Regions from separate parts of the Homo sapiens genome. Here region 2 is linked to region 1. The links come from fine-mapping of genetic effects on gene expression. A gene starts in region 1. The other region holds a variant in brackets. All regions are shown on one strand. Distances are between the middles of the regions.

Region 1 (11,310 bases):
TTCTCTGAGCCTTCATTGCTTGACGTTCAAGAACTATAAAGGACCTAAAAATACCACTTCACAGTAGGTGTGAAGTTTCAAGGAAGCAACAAGCATGAACATTAAAAAAAAAAAAAAAAATCCAGGTTGCTGACTGAATGTTTTTATCACCATCAAGAGCTGTCATAGGAGAGCTTCCTTTTGATGTTAAAACTTGTTTCTCAAACTCAACCCTCTAAAACGTAACTCTTCCCTCCCACCCCCAACCATTCAGCCTTCCAGTTCTGCCTTCCTCCTAGAGTACACACTCTGTAGGCTCCCAATCTGTCACCTCACCCAGTTGTTTCTTTCCATCAGATGTTCCTCAGACACATCCATCTTCATCTGAGCTCTTGTCACTTCCTGCCCCTCAGCTAAGAGTCCTTCTTCCAGGACAGGCTCTGGTAGCATCCTAAACCTCACCTTCCAGCTTTTCTAACAGTTTCAATTTTACATTTGCTTGTGCGATCCTTTCTGATGTCTAAGATTAACAATCTCAGGTCACAGACTTTCCTGGGAAAGAAATTTAACCTTTTTTTTTTTCTATGACAAATTAATTTCTTTTCAACTCTCTTTTCCATGTGGGTAGTAGAAACAGTCTCAGACAGTTCAGGGTTCTTCCCATCCTTGATTTTCAGGTCGTAGACACCTTTTGGAAAATGAATATAGGGCCAAAGTTGGGGGAGAAAATGTATCTAATCCTGGCCGGGGGCAATGGCTCACACCTGTAATCCCAGCACTTTGGGAGACTGAGGCAGAGGGATCACTTGAGGTGAAAGAGTTCAAGTCCAGCCTAGCCAAAATGATGAAACCCTGTCTCTCTAAAAATACCAAACAAAACTAGCCAGGTGTGGTGGTGTGTGCTGTAATCCCTACTCAGGAGGCTGAGGCAGGAGAATCACTTAAATCCAGAAGGCAGAGGTTGCAGTGAGCCAAGATCACGCCACTGCTCTCCAGCTGGGTGACAGTGAGTGAGACTCCATGTAAAAAAAAAGAAAAAAAGAAAATTCATCTAATTATCAGTGTCAGTTGTTTAAGCTGGCAACTTCTCCCTGACTAATCTTCTGTCACTTATCCACACAGATTGCTACTGAAGATACCTGGGAAATTAAGCTTCTTTTGGGTCTTTGGCCAATGTGTCCCCATGCTCCCCAGGCAGCAACAGCAGCTTTGGTCTGGGAGGAACAAGGCATAGAGTTCCTTCCTCAGGGACCCACCAGCACCAATGCATATATCTCTTTTCCCTTAACTCTCCCTGTTTCTCTGAAACCAAGTGCCCTGAATTTTTTCTATTCCCTGTGGGCTGGCTTATGAAACGGAAAAGCCTTGACAGGACTTCCTTTTTCCTGCATCCTGCTATCATAGCCATAAACTCCCCAGTAGAGGGACACCTCTGGTTTTGCTCATTGTGATACTACCAACACCTAGTATCGTGCCGGGCTGACACGCTATGGGTACTCAATAAAGATTGGTTCAACAATTAATTACTGAGTCTCCCTCCTTCTAGTCTGTCCCACTCCAACCCATCCAGTAAGTGTCTTCCAGAGGAAACTTCTGAAAGTATGGTTATCACTCCATAGCTCAAATGCAAACACATGCTGTTGTGCTGCCAGCCCAATCACCACCCAAGTTTTACCACCTTGGGTTCAAGGCCTCTCCTAAACGGATCCATTTTATTTCCAACCACACATCCAAGTACAGTAGTTGAGATGACTGGCCTGTCAGGCAACCTGTCTTCCAACCAACAATCATCATAAAGTTCCTGCTATGTGCCAGGCACAATGTGGCACTCTTACACTCTTGAGAGCAAGAGTAACCAGAACAATTATGGTTCCTGCCATCATGAAGTTTACAGTCTAGTGAAGAACCCAGACATCAGATACTTATAAATAGATAATTAAATGATTACAGTTCTTTGAAGTGGTTTGGAGGACAATCACAGTTTGCTGTATGGACTAAATTTAAACCAGGGACCATGAAAAGGGCTCCAGAGGAAGTGACATTTAAGGTGAGACTGAAGTTTACATTGGAGGGTTTGAGACAGGAGGGGGAAGAGGGAGGGGGGAGAGGACAGTGATCCAGGCAGAAGTTCTGAAACCAGCCAGCGCGGGTATGTTTGAGGAACTGAAAGGCCAATGTGGCTGGAAAGAAGATAAAGTGAGACTGTGATGGTCAGCATGGGCCAGATGGTGCAAGACTTACGGGCAAGTTTCCTCAGCCAGAAACTCTCTCCCTCATTCATGGCCTCAGGAATGACCCCTGGTTGGGGCTCAGAGAATGATACCCCAAAGTATGGTGCTTTAGTATTGTTTCTGAGCAAATAGGCTCACTGCCTGATGCACATAGAAGCCAATACTATGGTACCAGCTTTTGAGAACAGAAAGGCTTTATTGCAGGGCCACCCAGCAAGGAGACTGGAGGCATGGCTCACATCTGTCTCCTAATTTGGGGTCTGGGGCAAGATTTAAGGGGTCAGAGGGTGATATGGTTTGGCTGTGTCCCCACCCAAATCTCATCTTGAATTCTCACATGTTGTGGGAGGGACCCAGTGGGAGATAATTGAATCATAGGGGCAGGTCTTTCTTGTGCTGTTCTTGTGATAGTGAATAAGTCTCATGAGGTCTGATGGTTTTGAGAAACAGGAGTTTCCCTGTACAAGCTCTTTGTTTTTGCCTGCTGCCATCCATGTAAGATGTGACTTGCTCCTCCTTGCCTTCTGCCATGATTGTGAGGTTTCCCCAGCCACGTGGAACTGTAAGTCCAATTAAACCTCTTTTGTAAATTGTCCAGTCTCAGGTATGTCTTTGTCAGCAGCGTGAAAACAGACTAATACAGATGGCAAGGAAACGTATTAGGAATTTTGGCTTGGCAGGGTCTGATTGGAGGGTGTCAAATTTGACTACACGGGTATGTTGAGGTGGATTTTACCCCTGGATCTTTCTGGTCAACAGACCCTTTGCTCCTGAAAGAGTTCCAGCATTTAGGTTCCGATCATGTCTAGGTCTTCTTGGTACCACAGGGAGGAATCATTGGTTCTGGGTGTTGTTAGATGTCAAAGCATTTTCTATTGGGCATGCCCTACTGACATGACTTGGAGTTTTGGCTCTGTCATACCTACAAGAGAACATGACATTCTGTTATCAAAAGAGTAGGCCCAGTTTGGATTGGTCCTGAGGTTACAGCATGCTGAGCACTTTTGAATGAAAAGAAATGGGAAGGTCTTAGAAGCTGCCTTAGAACCAAGGACTTTCTAACCTTCTCTTGCCCCCTGACCCCCACCCTAAGTACAGGGAGAAGCTCTCTCTAGAAGTTCCCTTATCTGACTGAGAAAATTTCTTTCAGAAGAAATGCAATTGTCTCAAATCTCCCTCCACAGGAAACTCATCAAATAACCAGGAAAGATTAACCACTGGAGAAGAATAAAAACTAAAAGTCACCAACTCACCACTACACCTAGAGAGACTTTTAATCTATTCTTCTGATGGGAGCTCTAACAGATTACCTGAGAGACCTTATGTGCATAATAAGACAACCTTTGTTCACAATGGAGTTCTGCCCCTCACCTTCCCACAATTTGTTGCCACCTCCTCCAGAGCTCATAAGAACTTTGTCCCAAGGCATTGTTTGTTCTTGGGGCTCATTCATTTCCCCTAAAAATTATTTGCTAGCCCTCCCTAAAAATTATTTGCTAGCCCTCAAAATTGCCTACATTTCCCCCATCTCCGTCTTTCCTGGGTGCCATTTAAGTAAGCATCAGCCACCTGTTCCTTCTTTGAGCCTCATATTTTGTATTACTCCTGTGCACACTCACACACTAATACACTTGTATGCCTTTTCTCCTGTTATTCTGTCGATTGTCAGTTAATTTCAGCAAATCTTTAGAGGGCAGAGGGGAAACTTTTTTGCTCCATACCCTCATTCAGTTCTCAGCAAAAAAATCAGCTCCTCAGTGATGCACTCTCTAAGTGCCCTGCCTCAAGTAGCCGTTCCTCCAATCCCCAGCACCTCTGTCTACCTTGCTCTGATTTGTTGTATTCATAGCACTTACTACTCTGGAATTTTCTTCTTAAGTGTTGATTGTCTCTGTGCTCCCACCACCCACAGTAGAGTGTAAGCTCCAAGACAGCAGAAACTGTGTCTTTCTTGTTGACCTTTTCTATCTCCAGTTTTTACAATAGGGCTTGGCACATAGGAAGCACCCAATCAATATTTGTTGGATGAATGAAATGCCTGGGGAATAACATGAATAGATATTTCGTTCAAAGTGGATCACTGTCTGCTCTGTGGAAAGTAGATTAGGAGGAGGAGGCCAGGCTGGAAGCAAGGAACAAGTGGGAAGTTACTTTGTTGGTGCAAGACAGAGATGAGATGCCCTTTTGCATATTAACTCTTCATAAGAGTTCAGTGAGTTAGTTCTACCCTTGTCATCACTCCCTCTGTTTTACAGATGAGGAAACTAAGGCATAGAGAAGTTCATACTGCCAATCACCTGAGTGGTGCTAGGATTTGAGCACACAGTCTGACTTCAGAGTCCATGCTCTTGGCCACTATGCCATATTGCCTTTTGTACCTGTAACTTTTATTTTTCTCTCCAAGCTTTTGCTTACGTTGTTTCTTCTTCCGGAATGCCTTTCGTTCTCCTTCTCCTCTGAATACTGCCCACCTGTCAAAGTCCCTCTCACTCACATCCTGTTCATCCTGCCCTTTTGTCTTGATACCTTACAGTCCACACCACGTCTTTTGCATGATTCCTGAGAGTATCTTATCTTACAGATATCCACAAAGAATCATACACTATCTGAGCTGGAAGAGAAATAGAAAATACAAAATCCAAAATACAAAATAAAGAAATTTATAGGAGGCCATTGGTTTGGACTGAGCTCTTCTGCTAGGCCTAACAGACCAAGCTAAAAAGAGTTAGTCCTGCTGAAGCTCCACGCCAATAAGCTGAAACGAAGATCTTTACGACCTTCTGAGTGTGTATGTGTGTGTGTGTGTGTGTGTGTGTGTGTGTGTGTGTAGGGGGGAGCTAAATTCCCAAACAGGCAAGTTTTAGGTGGCATGATAAGTCCCCTCCACTTTAACCTTTACAAGAAAAGTAATTTTGAAATTACCAAATGACCAATCCGCTTTTTGTTCTCTGTTCCTGTTTTCCTCAGTCCTTTTCTGTCTATAAAACCAAGTTCTCCTGTTCAGCTCATTGGAACAACCATTATATTTTATAGTATGAGGCACTGCCCAATTCTATAGAATCGCACCTTAAGTCCCAGCTACTCCGGAGGCTGAGGCAGAAGGATCACTTGAGGCCAGGAGTTCCAGGATGCACCTGTGATAGCCATGATTGCTATGACCGCACCTGTGAATAGCCACTGCCTTCCAGCCTGGGCAACATTGCCAGAGTCCGTCTCTTAAGAAAAAAAAAATCTTTGAACTAAGTTTGTTGTGATTTTGTCTTTTGACAAAGAAGAAAGGGCAATGTGAATTGCCCCAAATCACAGAGCGAAATGGTAGTAGTCAGGACCAAAACACTTTCTTAGCCGTTTTCTTAGTTCTTGTACCCATCTGTTTCTGTATTTTCTTCACCAGGCCATCCAGCAGTGTCTCTTAAAGGGTAGCCCGAGAAACAACTGACTTAGAAAAGCGTGGGGCACAGTCTGTCTACGCAGACCCGAGGAATCTGCATTTTAACAAACTCACTGGGAAATTCTCGCGCACGCCAAGGTTTCAAAGACCAGGGTCCCGTGGCACAGTGCCGCACAGTTGTCAAAACAAGTGCTGTCCAATTGTTTTGGTTTTAAATTCTCACTGCGTCATGGGAAATGTAGTTTCGAGCCTCCTCTCTCCCGACGCCCCAGCCAATCCTCCGGCGCTTTACGGAACGAGCCGAGTCAATCCGGAAATAACCGAGTGTTCGTGGCGGGCCCTTTCCTGCCCGGCTGCATTCTGGGAAAGGGCAATTTCCGTTAGGTGCTGAAGGCTGTGGCGCGCGGCTGTCCCCATTCCCACGTGAAGCGCTACGCTAGCATCGCTCGGCTGGCGGCTCCCAGCTCGCCGCGGAGCAGTCCCGGCAGCAGCGGGGGACCGGAAGTGGCTCGCGGAGGCTCAGAAGCTAGTCCCGGAGCCCGGCGTGTGGCGCCTCGGAGCACGGTGACGGCGCCATGTCCCTAATCTGCTCCAGTGAGTGTTGGCTGCGGCCAAGCGCGGGTCTCAGGAGGCCAGAGAGCGGCGCGGGAGCGTGTGCGGTCCGCTGCGGCGCCCGGGCCGGGGTGGAGGCGGGAATGGGGCGCTCCGGAGGCCGAGCGGCGGCCTGTCAGCACCGGAGCCCCCCCCGTCGGAGCGGGGTGCATTTGCGCAGTGCCCCGCAGTTTACATAGTGCCTGAGGTTTATTGTCGCAGACATTACTGAGGCCGGTCGCCTCATTCTACAGAGTGGAAACAGGTCTGGACAGAGAGAGCTGGTGCAAGGGAAGCAGCCTTAATGTAGGAGTCAGAAAACTCGAGGTCTTGTCCAGGGTCCGCCTCCCATTGGCTTTATGAATTGGCTCAAGGCTCTGGGCCTCGGTTTCCCCATCTGCAAAATCGAGAGCATTGCAGTGGATGTTTTGCGAGGCCTCGCTCGGATAGTCGGAGCTTTTGCAATTTGCAAAGGTCACATGATGAGTTAGAGGTAGAGGCAAGGCTGGCAGCCAGGTATCTGGCTCCCAGCCTTACACTGTATGACTAATAAAAACAGCGCACATTTATAAGCCCTTATTGGTTTACAACGCGCTTCCAAGTCTATGATCTCATTTTATCCTCACAAGAATTCCCTAAAGGAGAAATAAAGATCCTGGTTTTGCAGATGAGGATGCAAGGCGCAGGAAGAGCGGGGCTTATCTAAGGATGCGTAGCTAGTCAGTGGCAGAGCTGGGTGACGTAGTTAGGTGACACGGATCTTGGACCCTGAATCCATGCTTTTTTCATACCTTCCACTATCTTTCCCTTTGATATTTTATCATGACGTACAGACATTTTCCTTTCCCTTTTCGTTGTTTCATCAGATTACTCGTTTCCCCTCCCTTTTGCTATTCACTTCCTTCTCTTCTCAGAACCTGTACATTGATCCAAAGAGGGGGAAGAAGGAAGGGAAATGATGGAAAAGGAATCCCTCACTTTGAAGAAATTACAGCTCGCAAAGTACCTTCACATTTATTGTTTCCTTCCAATCTTCGGGAAGCTCTCTTTTACGTTCCCCAGCACCATCCTTCCTGGCATGGTTCACTCATTTGTTAGATGTTTACCGAGTGCCCTGGGGGCATCTGCATTGTACTGGAAGTGAGAGACCAGCTGTAATCCTTATCCTCAAGGGGTGCACAGTCTACGCAGGCAAGAGTGTAAATGATACCTCTATTGCGGGTTGTTGTGAAGATGAATTACTGTACTGTATGCCTAGAATTGTGCTTGGCACATAGAAATGTGCCATGCAAATGTGCCATGTAAATATTTTTAAATATTTTTATTGTAGCGATTGCCACTTTGCTCCTTGGAATCTTCCAGGTGATAAGTGTCTGTACGCTAATCAGTTGACTGGTAGCTGGTAGACTCAATAGCTTCAGGATGGGGACTGGTCACCTAGGAAGACTAAAGGGTATTAGAAGGTTGGGATTTTCAGTCCTACCCCCCATTTACCTGGGGAAATGAGAGGAACTGAAGTCGTCACTAGTGACCAGTGATTTATTGAATCATGCCTTTGTAATGAAGTTTTCATAAAAATACAAAAGGACAGGATTCAAAGAGCTTCTGTATAGCAGAACATGTGGGGGTTCCTGGAGGGTGGGGTGCCCAGGGAAGGCATGGGAAGCTCTGTACTTCTCCCATACCTCATCCTATGCTCCTCTTCATCTGTATCCTTTGTAATATCCTTTACAATAAACTGGTAAACATAAGTGTTTCCCACAATTGTTTGAGTCACTGTTGCAAATTAATTGAACCCAAAAAGGAGGTCATGGGAACCCTGATTTACAGCTGGTAGATCAGAAGAACAGGTCAAACAACCTGGGGCTTGCGATTGGCATCTGAAGGGGCGGGGAGTCTGGTGGGACTGAGACCTCAACCTGTATGATCTGACACTATCTCCAGGTACCTGGTGTCAGAATTGAATTGGAGGACACCCAGATGGTCACATCTGAGGTCACAGAAGTATTTTGTTTTGTCAGAGAATAGGAGAAACTGAGTTTGTTATTCCTGTATTCTCAGACTTTATAATTTCTTTGATAATCTGTCTGGAGCTATAGACTAAGATGGATGGCAGGGATTTGAATGGCTTCATGTGTATCTCCATGTCATGGAGTAAACTGTATTCATAGAGTACACAATCATTGTTCAGATATGAGGTGGTGATAATGGACTGCTATTCTCTAGGTGCTTGGCACATAGTAGTTGTTAATAATTATTTGTTGACTATATGATTGTCAGATAGTCAGGAGACTATCTCCTCAGTCAGGAGACTAAAGGAAAAGGTAGTTCCATAGCTGGAAAGCATTCTGGGGCCAGTACAGAACTGGCTTAGGGTCAAATGTCTTGCTTTCTGCTAGTTGAGTGTGAGGATGCCTAGTCTTGTTGGGGCTAATAGCAGATGAGGAATCCTCTAGGCCCAAGATTGCCTTCACTCCAAGCTCACTACCAGCCTTTTCTCTACAGTCTCTAACGAAGTGCCGGAGCACCCATGTGTATCCCCTGTCTCTAATCATGTTTATGAGCGGCGGCTCATCGAGAAGTACATTGCGGAGAATGGTACCGACCCCATCAACAACCAGCCTCTCTCCGAGGAGCAGCTCATCGACATCAAAGGTGCCTATTGGCTGCCTTAGTCTAGGGCCATCTTAGCTCAGAGCCTGAGAGGATGGGAGGTGGTGCCAGTGCACTGGAGGAAGAGATGGTGGGCTGTTTATGGCTAAAAGGAAAAGATGTGATGGCGGGGGAGGCCCCTGGGTTATGTTCTTCATACCTGCTTTCCCTTTCGGCAGTTGCTCACCCAATCCGGCCCAAGCCTCCCTCAGCCACCAGCATCCCGGCCATTCTGAAAGCTTTGCAGGATGAGTGGGTGAGTTCCTGCAAGAGAATCAGCATCTTCCCCACTTGAAGAGAATGCATTGCTGGGTTAGGACTTGGGGGTAGGAAGGATGGAGCATTATTTAGAGGGTAAACTTTGTGACATCAGGGATTTGTTTTATTCTTCGTTGTATCCCCAGCACTGAGAGCAGCACCTGGTACATAGTAGGTGCTCTAGAGTTATGAATTGAATGATTGAATACATCCTGCAGGACTGTCTGGCACAGTGCCTGACACAACGAGGGCGATCAATAAATAGCAGCAGCAGCAGTGTTGTTATTCTCTTTTAGAGAGGGGACGGCATGACAGCTGGGATTTGCCAGTAAGTTAGGGAAGGTGGGGATGGGAAAGAGCTGGCTCCCACTCCTGTCTGTGTGCCCAGTGGTTCGCTTGGGGTAGGAGCTCAAGAGTGTCTGCCGGCACATTCGTGTTTGCTCGGATATTGTTTGGGTCACTGATACTGGTCTAGGCTCTGGGATAGGAGGCAGCATCCCCTCCCCAAGGGCTGACTCCACTGGGTACTCCCTGCACCCCCCACCTCACCTTACAATGATATTTGCTTCTCCCAGGATGCAGTCATGCTGCACAGCTTCACTCTGCGCCAGCAGCTGCAGACAACCCGCCAAGAGCTGTCACACGCTCTGTACCAGCACGATGCCGCCTGCCGTGTCATTGCCCGTCTCACCAAGGAAGTCACTGCTGCCCGAGAAGGTGCAGCCTCTCCCCTGCCATCCCCCACCCTGGGCTGGTTCTGCATTGTAATATCCCATTTCTAACATCGTCTTTTCTCTCAGCTCTGGCTACCCTGAAACCACAGGCTGGCCTCATTGTGCCCCAGGCTGTGCCAAGTTCCCAACCAAGTGTTGTGGTAAGTGTCCCCCTTCCCTTACCAGCAGCCCATTTGTGTACAGTGGCCCACAGAACTGTCCTTATGCAGGTGTCTTTGGTGCTCTGTGCCTCTCACCCTCACCTTTCTTCTCTTCAGGGTGCGGGTGAGCCAATGGATTTGGGTGAGCTGGTGGGAATGACCCCAGAGATTATTCAGAAGGTAAGTCCTGCTCTCACCTGGTGGGAGTGCTGATGGGCCCTTACTTTTCACCATCTGTCTGGAGTCCATCGTGACTAAAATCACTGTGCTTTTGGGAGTTGAGTGGTGCAGAGCATGGACCCTGGGACCAGATTGCCTGGGTTTGTATTTTGATGCCACTACTTGTAAGCTTTATGACCTTGGCTTACTTAGCCAACCCTTACGTGTCTCATTTCCCTAGCTTCTAAACTGAGAATATGATCATATCCACTGTATAGGCAGGCTGTGGGAATTTAAAAGATTTCATTACTGATAAGTGCACCTTTTAGCTCTTATTGTTATTGAGATTCTTTGCAGATAGTAAACTACTTTTATATATTTTCTTGTTTTTTTTCTATGAGGGCAATAGGATAGGAATTATAATCCTTATTTTGCAGATGAAAGACACATCTGAGAGGCAGAGCTGGGCTTCCTGATTGCAAGTCCAGTGGGATTCTCATTTGCAGGGCTTCTTAGTGTCTTTCTGAGCAGTTCAAATTGTCAGCATGTGTCTGAGCCCTTGGCTTAGTGGCGTGTAGACCTATGGGAGCTCTACAGTCCTAGCTTCTATTCTTGCTCTGCTGTTTATCACCTCTGCGACCTTGGGCAATTGACTTCACTTCTCTGAGGCTCAGTTTCCTCAGCTGTAAAATAAGGTCATCAACACCCCCCTCATAAAGCTGGGATGGAAGTAAGAAGAGAGAATGCCTTTAAGCCTGTAACGTAGAAGTTGGCAGATAGCAAGTTCTTGGTGCTGCTTTTGAAAGCACAGGTGTGACCAGCATCTAATGTACTTTTCTCCTTGCAAGATGATTTGTCTCACATTGAGCCTGTTCTTCCCCAGCTTCAAGACAAAGCCACTGTGCTAACCACGGAGCGCAAGAAGGTGAGTTCTCTTTCTGAAGCCTGGAGAAAGAGCTGGCCTGGTGGGAGGCGGTTGACTCCTTAGGAGAGAGAGGGCGGCTGAATCTTGGATTCATTGCTGCTCTTCTTTGGGGGCTTTTCATTTTCTCAGAGAGGGAAGACTGTGCCTGAGGAGCTGGTGAAGCCAGAAGAGCTCAGCAAATACCGGCAGGTGGCATCCCACGTGGTGAGTGTCTGGGTCTCCACTGTCTTGGAGACAGCCCTCCCGTTTT
Region 2 (10,058 bases), 42 kb after region 1:
ACAAATTTACAAGACCTCTTCTAGCTTTAGTACACCTATACATGTTTAAAGCTGTTTTCCAAATACTACAAAGGAATAAAAGAATCATCTTTTTCTAAAAAAAGAAAAAAACAAAAAAAGAAATGGCTTAGAGCCCAGTAAAAGGCTGTTAGGCCACCCTGTACTCCAGAAGTCCCCAGACAGAGGGTAAGTACACTCAGATGTCCTGCGTACCTATGTAATCTCGTTTGTTCACATCCCAGTGTTCCAAGGTGCCCCAGTGGGGTTGAGCCAGGGTGGCGAGGGTAGGTCCAGGTCCAGGGGATGGTAAAGCAGGGGTTGGGTGGACAGAGCTGTGCCCTGGGTCCAGTGGGCTGGGAAAGGCATGGCCAGAGCCTTGGGAGGTATGGCCAGAGGTGGGGAGGAAGGAAAGGGTTTGTGGGGTTGAGACAGAGAACATGGCGGGTGGTGCCAGCTGGGAGTCCAGAGTCCGGGAGGGGTCAGGTTTGGGACAGATCAGAGTAGCGTCTTGTGCCACATCCACACGACCATTGGGCAGCACAGCCTCCATGAACACCCTCAGGTGGAAACGCCCATCCTGCAGGTGAGAGGCCATCATAGAGCAGCAAGGTGAGGCCACCTAGCATACCCAGGCAGGGGACGGGCCCACGAGAGCTGAGCTGGCCATTAGGCAGGGAGCTGGATTCATGGTGGATTCCAGAAAGTACCTTCCAGAGCTTAGTTTCCCTCACCCACCAGCTCAACAGATCTTCGGCTTTGGCTCCTTTCTGGTTCATGAGGGGCCTCTTCAGCCTGACATGACACTAGGACAAGCTTGCCCCTGTGCCAGAGCATGAACAACCCCTACCTTCTCCAGCACGTGGCAGCCTCTGTAATCGGCCGAGAAGACTGCAGGCTCCTGCGGCCTGGAGGTGACCCAGTGGTAGCAGATGGAGCAGTTGTTGACATCAAATCGGTTCCCAAATTCATCTGCAGTGGGGGAAGGGGAGGGGCCAGGGATGTTGAAGGGTGCAGGGAGAGGTTGCTGGGGTCTCGGAAGGAGTTCCCACTCAGCAGCCAGGAGACCTGGGTTCTTGCCTTAGCTTTGCTATTAGTTTGTTGTGTGGTCTTGGGCAAGCCCCCTCCCCTCTCTGCTCTCAGTTTCCACAGCTGTAAGGGGATGGGAGGGTCTTAGGATCTTTCTAGCTAGGGTTCCCTGCTCACAGCACACGGCAGCAGGCAGGCACGAAGATGAGGTGGAGAAGGGATACACAGGGTCTCAGGCACTGGCCTGAGTATTTCACATCACTTCTTTTAAGCTTAGTTATCCACATCCTGTGGCTGAGGCAGCTGAGGAAGGGAGGGTGCGTGAGCTTTCTTAGGTGCACACAATGAGGGGCAGAATGAGGATTTGAATCCTGGGCTTTGTAGAAAGATCTGAACCCATTTCCCAGGTTAACTGTGGCTGCTGCAGTTGCTTGGAGACACCCCCTAGGTGTCCACCCTGCTTGTTGCCCCAGAACAGCCTGGGCATTCCCTGGGTGTGGGCATGTCCCCATGCCCTTGTTCCATGAGCACGGCCAGGTTCATCTTCCCCACCTTGCAGATGAGGAAACAGAGGCTTATGAGTCAGGTCAGTTGTCCAAAATCATCCCGTTTAGAAGCTGCAGATCCAAACCCCAGTTCTAAACCCACACCAGGCCACGCCTACTAGGTCCTGCTGCTGGAAGTGGTTTATGGACCCTCAGCCTCAGTTTTGACTGAGCGTGGTTAGAGATGCAGAGCCTAGGCTGGGTGCAGTGGCTCACGCCTATAACCCCAGCACTTTGGGAGGCTGAGGCAGGTGGATCACCTGAGGTCAGGAGTTCGAGACCAGCCTGACCAATATCGTGAAACTCCATCTCTACTAAAAATACAAAAAGTAGCTGGGCGTGGTGGCACACACCTGTAGTCCCAGCTACTAAGAGGCTGAGGCAGGAGAATTGCTTGAACCTGGGTGGTGGAGGTTGCAGTGAGCTGAGATCGTGCCAACTGCACTCAAGCCTGGAGAACAGATTGAAAGAAGTGAGACTGTCTCAGAAAAAAAAAAAAAAAAGAAAAGAAATGCAGAGGCTTGGCCCTGCCCCAGGTCCACTGAATCAGAACCTGCACCTCAACAAGGTGGCCAGGTGTTTCCCATGCACACTAACGTGGGAGAAGCTGCCCTGGGTGATGATTCTCCTCCTTGCCCTTTTCTGTGGTGAGGGGGTGGGGGGCTGGACACCCCCAGGCTGGAGGGAGGCCTCTGTTCTTGCTCCTTCAGGGGAAGGGTCCCAGCTCCCTTCTGGCAGCAGCCCGTGGCCAGGGAGGCAGGGGCCAGGACTCTGCCAGCACTCACCCACCACCTTGAAGCGGAGAGTCTGGCCTGGCCTGGGGAACACCAGCAGCTGCATTCCCTTGATCCCACAGTCGTAGCTGTGCCGGAGGCCTGGGAGGCCAGGGTCGGGCTGGAGCCACCTACCCAGCCCCAGGGTGGCAACCAGCAGTAGCAGGGCCACAGGGTAACCCCAGGTCGTGGCTGAGCCTCCTGCCATGAGACGCCACAGACACACCCCCTACTCCCTCGCCACCAGAGCTGGGCCCAGGCCTTTTATGGAGGAGGTGGCAAGTGGGTGCCTGTAAGGGCAAAGGGGGCCCACCTGGAGGAGCACCCACCTGGCCACCAGGGGCTGTGGTGAAACTCCTGTTCCAAAGGCAGCGGGAGGCAGAAAGCTGCACGTGGCCCCTCACCCTGGCTTTCTGTCTCACAGCTGTGGCTTTGGAAGGGAGGAGGGAGCTTTCCAGAAAACTGAGGTTGCAGATGGGCTGTGGGAAGGGATCCAGGGCTAGGAGGTGGCACTGCAGACCTCAGGCCCTCCACTGTCTCCCTCTCACCCCAGCCTTTCTGCATTCCCTTCCTGCCCCAACAGGCTCTCCAGGTCCTCCTTCCTGCCTTGAGGCCTCAGGACCACTGGGAGCTGCCGGCCTGGTTAGTACAGTCACAGCTCCTCAGGCAGGGCTTTAGGGGCATTAGAGCAAGACCAGGAAGACACAGCCCTCAGAGCTGGCAGCGGAATGGGGACTGCAGGTGAGTAAACAGACCAGTAGCACCTCCAAGGGCTCTCCTGAGGATTCAGCCGGTCAGTATGATGATGACTATGACTAATAAAAAATAACAAGGACAACTAAATGTAATGTGGCATCTGGATGGGATCGTGGAACAGAAAAAGGCAGTAAAAGTGAAGAAAGTGGATTTTAGTTAATAATAATGTGTCCACATTTGTTTGTTCATTAATTGTAATAAATGTATCATACTCAAGTAAGATCAGTTATGGGGTAAACTGGGCCTGCGGTGTATGGGAACTGTCTGTACTATCTTCTCAGTTCTGTAAATCTAGAACAGTTCTAAGACATAAAAGTGGCTGGAAACAACAAGAATGGCCTGTGGTCTGCCATGATTACAGTGCCAGGTCTTGCTTGTGTTAGATCCTTATACCGCCTGACCATCCTCTGAGGAAGGGACTGTCACCAGCCCCACGTCCTGGCACTAATTCCTGCAAGTGATTAGCCTAGGGCCCAGCAGCGTTTGAGCTCAGCAAACATTAGAAAATGCAGCTATTATAATTAGCAGCTGCTGGAAGGGGAGAGCAAGAGGCTTGATAGCTAAGAGCCCGGTTCTGGTGAGGTTGCAGAGAAAAAGGAATGCTTATACGCTCTTGGTGGGGGTGTAAATTGGTTTGACCACTGTGGGAGTGTGGTGATTCCTCAAAGAGCTGAAAACAGAACTATCATTTGATGCAGAAATCGCATTACTGGGTATATATCCAAAGGAATATAAATTGTTCTATCATAAAGACACTGAACCTGCGTGCATATGTTCAGTGCAGCATGATTCACAATAGCCAAGACATGGAATCAAATGCCCATCAATGGTAGACTCAATAAAGAAAATCTGGTACATGCTGAGCACGGTGGCTCACGCCTGTAATCCCAGCACTTTGGGAGGCCGAGGCGGGCGGATCACGAGGTCAGGAGATCGAGACCATCCTGGCTAACATGGTGAAACCCTGTCTCTACTAAAAATACAAAAATTAGCTGGGTGTGGTGGCACGCACCTGTAGTCCCAGCTACTCAGGAGGCTGAGGCAGGAGAATCGCTTGAACCCAGGAGACGGAGGTTGCAGTGAGCCGAGATTGTGCTGTTGCACTCCAGCCTGGCCGACAGAGTGAGACTCTGTCTCAAAAAAAAAAAAAAAAAAAGAAAAAGAAAAAAAAAAAAGGAAAATGTGGTACACATACACCATGGAATACTATGCAGCCATAAAAAAGAATGAGATCACATCTCTTGCAAGAACATGGATGGAGCTGGAGGATATTATCCTTAGCAAACAAATGCAGGAACAGAAACCAATACCACATGTTCTCACTTATAACTGAAGGCTAAATGATGACAACATATGGACACATAGAGGGGAATGGCACACACTGGGGCCTATTGAAGGGTAGAGGGTAAGAGGAAGGAGAAGGGTGGAAATAATAACTATTGGGTGCTAGGCTTAGTATCTGGGTGATGAAATAATCTGTACAACAATCCCTCTGGACATGCATTTACCTATATAACAAACCTGCATAAGTAACCCTGAACCTAAAATAAAAGTTTAAACAAAAAAAGTTGGTTCTAATGGTGCCCCAACCACTTTCTTAGCTGTGACTCAGATGCATTATCTATTCTGAGCCTCAGGTTTCCTGTTTGTAAACTGGGGGTGATAATGCTTTCCTTGCCCACATGGTGGATAGGAAGACACAAAGAGACAAGTCATGGGTACCAGGTGCAGTAATGATTTAATGCTTGGCAATAATTCACTTCTACTGTGATTAAAGCTCAGCTGGGAAAGCTTGGTGGGGCGGGGTGGGAGTCCCTCTGGGGGCACAGTGGGAAGAGGCACCCAACACAGCATCGAGGATGGGCGACATGGAAGTGTTTTTGGAGGAAAGGGGTCCTGAGCAGAGGTGGGAGGAGGCGGGGAGGACAGGGATGGTGCAATGGGGATCTGGGGAGAGCAGAGCTGGAGGAGGAGGGAGGAAGCAGGTCACACAAAGGTCCAGGACAAGGACTCCAGGCAGGCTGAGGGTGCTGGCGAGGGAAGGACTAGGAGGGGAAGGAGAGGAGCCAGGCAGGAGCGGGGAGTGGGGTGGATTTTCCCTGAGGGACGATGTGGAAGTTTTAAACTTTTAATTTTGAAATTATTTCAGATTTGCAGAATTTCCATATAGCCTCCTCCAGATTCCTCAGATGTTCACTGTTCACTTTTTACATTTGCTGTAGCTCCCGCTTTCTCTCTCTGCATGTGTGCAGACATACACGCACGCACACGCACACACGCACACATTCTTCCATATCATTCAAGAGTCAGTTGCAGAAATGACAGATTCCCCTTTACCTCTAATTGCTTCAGTATACATTTCCTAAAAAAACAAATCACCCCTACAGTCAAATGATCAAAATCAGGAAACCAACAATGGTATAAACACAACGATCTAATCTGCAGACATTATTGTAAGAAATAAAGAGGAAAGCAACATGAAAGGGCGGTTCAACAGGCAACAGGGACAGGTTTATGTTGAGTAAACCTGAGAGGGGCGGCTGGCCGAGTTAGGTCAGAGCCCCACTCTCTTACAGATTAAGAGTTAAGGATTCAGGGCGGGGGAGTTTATCAGAGGCTTGGACTGCTCCTGTGTCTCTTTGCTGTGCGTATCTGGGAGGGAGAGTTGTGTGTCTGTTCCCATATATCTTTCTGCAGCTACAGGCATATCCCCAGAGTCTGCTTTTAGCTTCCCTATCTTAGTGCCCCTGAAGGAAAAGGAATGTGCTTATTAAGGCCCACTGTTTTACTGGGGCTCATTGTGTGAGGGTGAAGTTTGGCAGTTACCAAAGAGACCTTCCCTCCACCCCGCTCTGTGCCGGAGCTGTCTTATCTGTATTTTACTGTCTGCTCTTTCTGGCTGTTGTAGTTAGAAGAGAAGTGATTTCCTTGAAATGCATGAGGCTAGAAAGGGAGCTGGAGCTTAAAGTGGCAGTATTTGTCCGAGATGACGGTGCTCCTGCTCTGACAATTACTCAACATCTGCCGACTGTCCTAACTGTGACTTTCATGGCAAAGGAGTACAGTGGTTTTGGGAGTCTGCAGGATCCAATCCAGGCTCAGAGTCTCGCTGGCGTGCCTCTTGGCCTCCTCTGATCTGGGACCGCCCTTCTATCTTCTTTTGTCTTTCATACCCTTGACATTTTTTAGTACAGCCGGATGATTTTGCAGAATGGCCCTCAGTTTGGGTTTGTCTGGTGTTTTCTCCTGGTTACATTAGATTTAGTTGATGCATCTTGGCCTTGTATTAGTCCGTTTGGCTGCTGTAACAAAATACAGACTGAGTGGCTTAAATAAGTCTTTTTCTCACAGCTCTGGAGCCTGGATGTGCTAGGTCAAAGTGGTGGCAGGTCTGGTTGCTCCTGAGGCCTCTCTCTTTGGCCTGCAGACAACCGTCTTCTCACTGAGTCCTCACGTGGTCTTTCCCCTGTGCTGGTGCGTCCTTGGTGTCTCTTTGAATGGTCAAATTCCCTCTTCTTCTGGCTGGCACGGTGGCTCACGCCTGTAATCCTAGCACTTTGGGAGGCCGAGGTGGGCAGATCACTTGAGGTCAGGAGTTTGAGACCAGCCTGGCCAACATGGTGAAACCCCATCTCTACTAAAAATACAAACTAATTAGTTGGGTGTGGTGGTGCACACCTGCAATCCCAGCTCCTCAGGAGGCTGAGGTGGGAGAATCACTTGAACCTGGGAGGTGGAGGTTGCAGGGAGCCAAGACGGCACCACTGCACTCCAGTCTGGAAGACAGAGTGAAA[C/T]TCCATCCCAAAAAACAAAAACAAATTTCCTCTTCTTCTAAGGACACCAGTCAGATTGGATTAGGGCCACCTTAAGGGGCTCAATCTTAAATCACATCTTTAAAAGCTCTATCTCCAAATACAGTCACATTCTGAGGGATGGGGGTGGAGGGTTAGGGATTTCGCATATGAATTTTGGGGGGATACAATTCAGCTTGTACAGAAGTGATGTTGTGTCCTTCTCAGTATCTCGAGGCACACCCCGCTGGCTTGTCCTGTTATTGCTGATGTGACTTTGATCACTTGGATAAGGTGGTGTCTGCCAGGTTTCTCCACCATAAAGTAATGATGTTTCTCTTTGTAATTCATGAGTATCTTACAGGGAGATACTTTGAGACTATGTAATCAATCCTGCTCCTCTTCAAATGTTCACTGGCTAGTGTGGTTGCCAAGTGGGTGGTGGTTCTCTAACTCTACCCTTCCTTCTGCATTTATTTGCTATCATAAGAGAGAACTTTTCCTAACGGGGGCTTTTAGGGGCCAGAGAGAGAATCAGCTGGAGTCTTTGAGAGGCCTGGATTTTGCCTGGTGCTCACTGTTTATGAGCACAAGGGCCCTGGGAAGTCACTTACCGGCTTTTTTCCTCTATCTGGAGAGTAAGGATGAGAATGATTATGGTGGGGATGCAATTACATAAGACACGGAGAGGTGTTTCCCCACTGGTCATGGACCCATGGGGAAAGTACGTCTCCCAAGGTGCTGGAAATGGGCAGGGAAAGAGAAGGGGGGCTTCCTCAGGGCCAAGGGCAGAACACCTTTGGGAAAAGGGTACCAGAGTATCCAAGAGAGAGAGAGAGCGCGCACGAGCGCCCTGAGCCCTCGGTTACGACTCTACGTTCTTGCAAAGACTCATGGACACCAAGAATTATCAGCCTGGGAGGATCCCAGCTCCTCTGCTCACCCACTGGAGACCTTGGAAAAGTCCCTTCCCTGCTCTGTGACTTGCTTTCCTCATCTATAAAATGGGGTTATAATAGCACCTAAATTGTAGGGTTGCTCTGAGGATTAAATGAGATAATCCATGTGAAGCAGGCAGAACAGGGTCTGCACATGGTCATCATTTGAACACGATAGCCATTACAACCACGATTATTTTTATTGATAAAGAGAGAGGGTCAGATGGAGGTGACTTGACTTGGAATCTTGGCTTTATCCACTTGGCTTCTGGTTTTTGGGTTTTTTTTTAGAGATGGGGTCTTGCTATATTGCCCAGGCTGGTCTCAAACTCCTGGGCTCAAGCAATCTGCCCGCCTCTGTCTCCCAAAGTGCTGGGATTACAGGCATGAGCCTCCACACCTGGCCACTTGGCCTGTTTGTAAACCTGTTTGTTCATTTCTTTCTTTCTGTTTTTAACCTATGAATTTTTTTTTAATGGAACTTCAGTTTCTTTTCTTTCTTTTTTTTTTTTTGTTTTGTTTTGAGACAGAGTCTCACTCTGTCGCCCAGGCTGGAGTGCAGTGGCGCGATCTCGGCTCACTGCAAGCTCCGCCTCCCGGTTCACACCATTCTCCAGCCTTAGCCTCCCGAGTAGCTGGGACTGCAGGCGCTGGCCACCATGCCCGGCTAATTTTTTATATTTTTAGTAGAGACGGGGTTTCACCGTGTTAGCCAGGATGGTCTCGATCTCCTGACCTTGCGATCCGCCCGCCTCAGCCTCCCAAAGTGCTGGGATTACAGGCGTGAGCCACCGCACCCAGTTGGAACTTGAGTTTCTTAATCTATAAAATGGAACTAAGAATACAGTCCACCTAAGTGGGGCGCCGTGTAAGTATCAGTTGCTTGCCCTGTCTCCTCTGTGAATAGAGCCTAGGGAAGGCACTGGAGGAGGATGGAGCCTCTCTAGGCTGGAAAGACAAAATCCCCTTTCAGGGGATCCATGCATGCCAGGAAACCAGCAGGAAGCAGGCTGCCTCACTCCGGGGCCTGCAGAGTAACCCAAGAGCAGCGCCAGCTGTGTGTGTATGTATGGACCGTGCTCACCGCAGAGATGCTCCCAGAAGGCCAGTGGGAGCGCATTTAACTGAAGACAGGCAGCCCTGCTTCCCCTGAGGGAACAAAGAACCTCAGAGAATCTCATCAGCTGCGAAGAGCTGGGCTCTGCTGCTGGACCACATGGCTCTGAACTCCAGCTCCTCTGCTCCCCAGCTGAGCAGGCTTGGTAGGGTTGCTTAAGCTCTCTGAGCCTCAGTTTTCCCCTTGGTGAGTGACGATGATAGTGGTACCTAACTCAGAGGGGTGCGTGAATATTTGATGAGCTCATCCATGAGCAAGTTTCAGCCTTACGCTGGCACATAGTGAGTGCCCCATAAGTGTTAGCTATTACTGTTTTCATTTTTTTTTTTTTTTTTTTTTTGAGATGGCGTCTCGCTCTGTCACCCAGGCTGGAGTGGAGTGGCAGGATCTCGGCTCACCATAACCTCTGCCTCCTGGGTTCAAGCGATTCTCCTGCCTCAGCCTCCTGAATAGCTGGTATTACAGGCGTGCACCATCACACCTGGCTAATTTTTGTATTTTTAGTAGAGATGGGGTTTTGCCTGTTGGCCAGGCTGGTCTCGAACTCCTGACCTCAAGTGATCTGTCCGCCTCATCCTCCCGAAGTGCTGGGATTGCAGGCATGAGCCACCGTACCCAGAAGCTATTATTGCTTTCACTGTGTTGAATGGTGGCCCTCAAAAGACATGTCCACAACCTAACCCCTGGAACCTGTGAATGTGGCCTTATTTGGATAAGAGGACTTTGCAGATGTAATCAATTTAAGAATCTCAAGATGAGAGCACCCTGGATGATCCAGATGAGCCCTAAGTCCAGTGACCAGTACTCTGTGAGAGACACATGAAAAGAGGGAGGGGGAAGGCCAGGTAAAGAGGAGGTAGAGATTGCAGTGATGCAGCCCTAAGCCAAGGGACGCCTGGAGCCACCAGAAGCTGGAGGGGCCAAAAAGTCTCCTTTTCTAGAGCTTTCGGAGGAAGTGCTGGCATCTGATTACAGACTCTGGCTTCCAGACTGTAAGAGAATAAGTCTCTGTTGTTTAAAGCTGCCACGTTTGTGGTAGTTTGTTCTGACAGCCCGAGGAAACAAATACACCACTGTTGTTTCTGCGACGATTGCCTGGCACATGTGTGGGC

What was found. PIP is the estimated chance that this variant, and not a neighbour inherited with it, causes the effect.
Region 2: its variant is fine-mapped to the expression of PRPF19 in whole blood (INTERVAL, PIP 0.99).

What each region holds. Positions count from the first base shown.
Region 1 is chr11:60,901,249-60,912,558 of GRCh38, reverse strand. PRPF19 (pre-mRNA processing factor 19) reads left to right here and starts at 5,974. Exons shown (of 16, transcript NM_014502.5): 1 at 5,974-6,195; 2 at 8,698-8,847; 3 at 9,024-9,100; 4 at 9,678-9,819; 5 at 9,903-9,976; 6 at 10,094-10,156; 7 at 11,019-11,060; 8 at 11,190-11,264. The coding sequence starts at 6,177. PRPF19-DT (PRPF19 divergent transcript) reads right to left here and starts at 5,780. Exons shown (of 2, transcript NR_186697.1): 1 at 5,716-5,780; 2 at 1,659-3,132. RefSeq lists enhancers at 1-162, 1,630-1,939, 2,650-2,699, 5,522-5,641, 5,755-6,342 and a silencer at 6,282-6,381.
Region 2 is chr11:60,860,056-60,870,113 of GRCh38, reverse strand. ZP1 (zona pellucida glycoprotein 1) reads right to left here and starts at 2,572. Exons shown (of 12, transcript NM_207341.4): 1 at 2,357-2,572; 2 at 848-969; 3 at 214-577. The coding sequence starts at 2,552. RefSeq lists silencers at 5,620-5,837, 5,684-5,978. The variant C/T (reference allele first, on the strand shown) is at 6,895.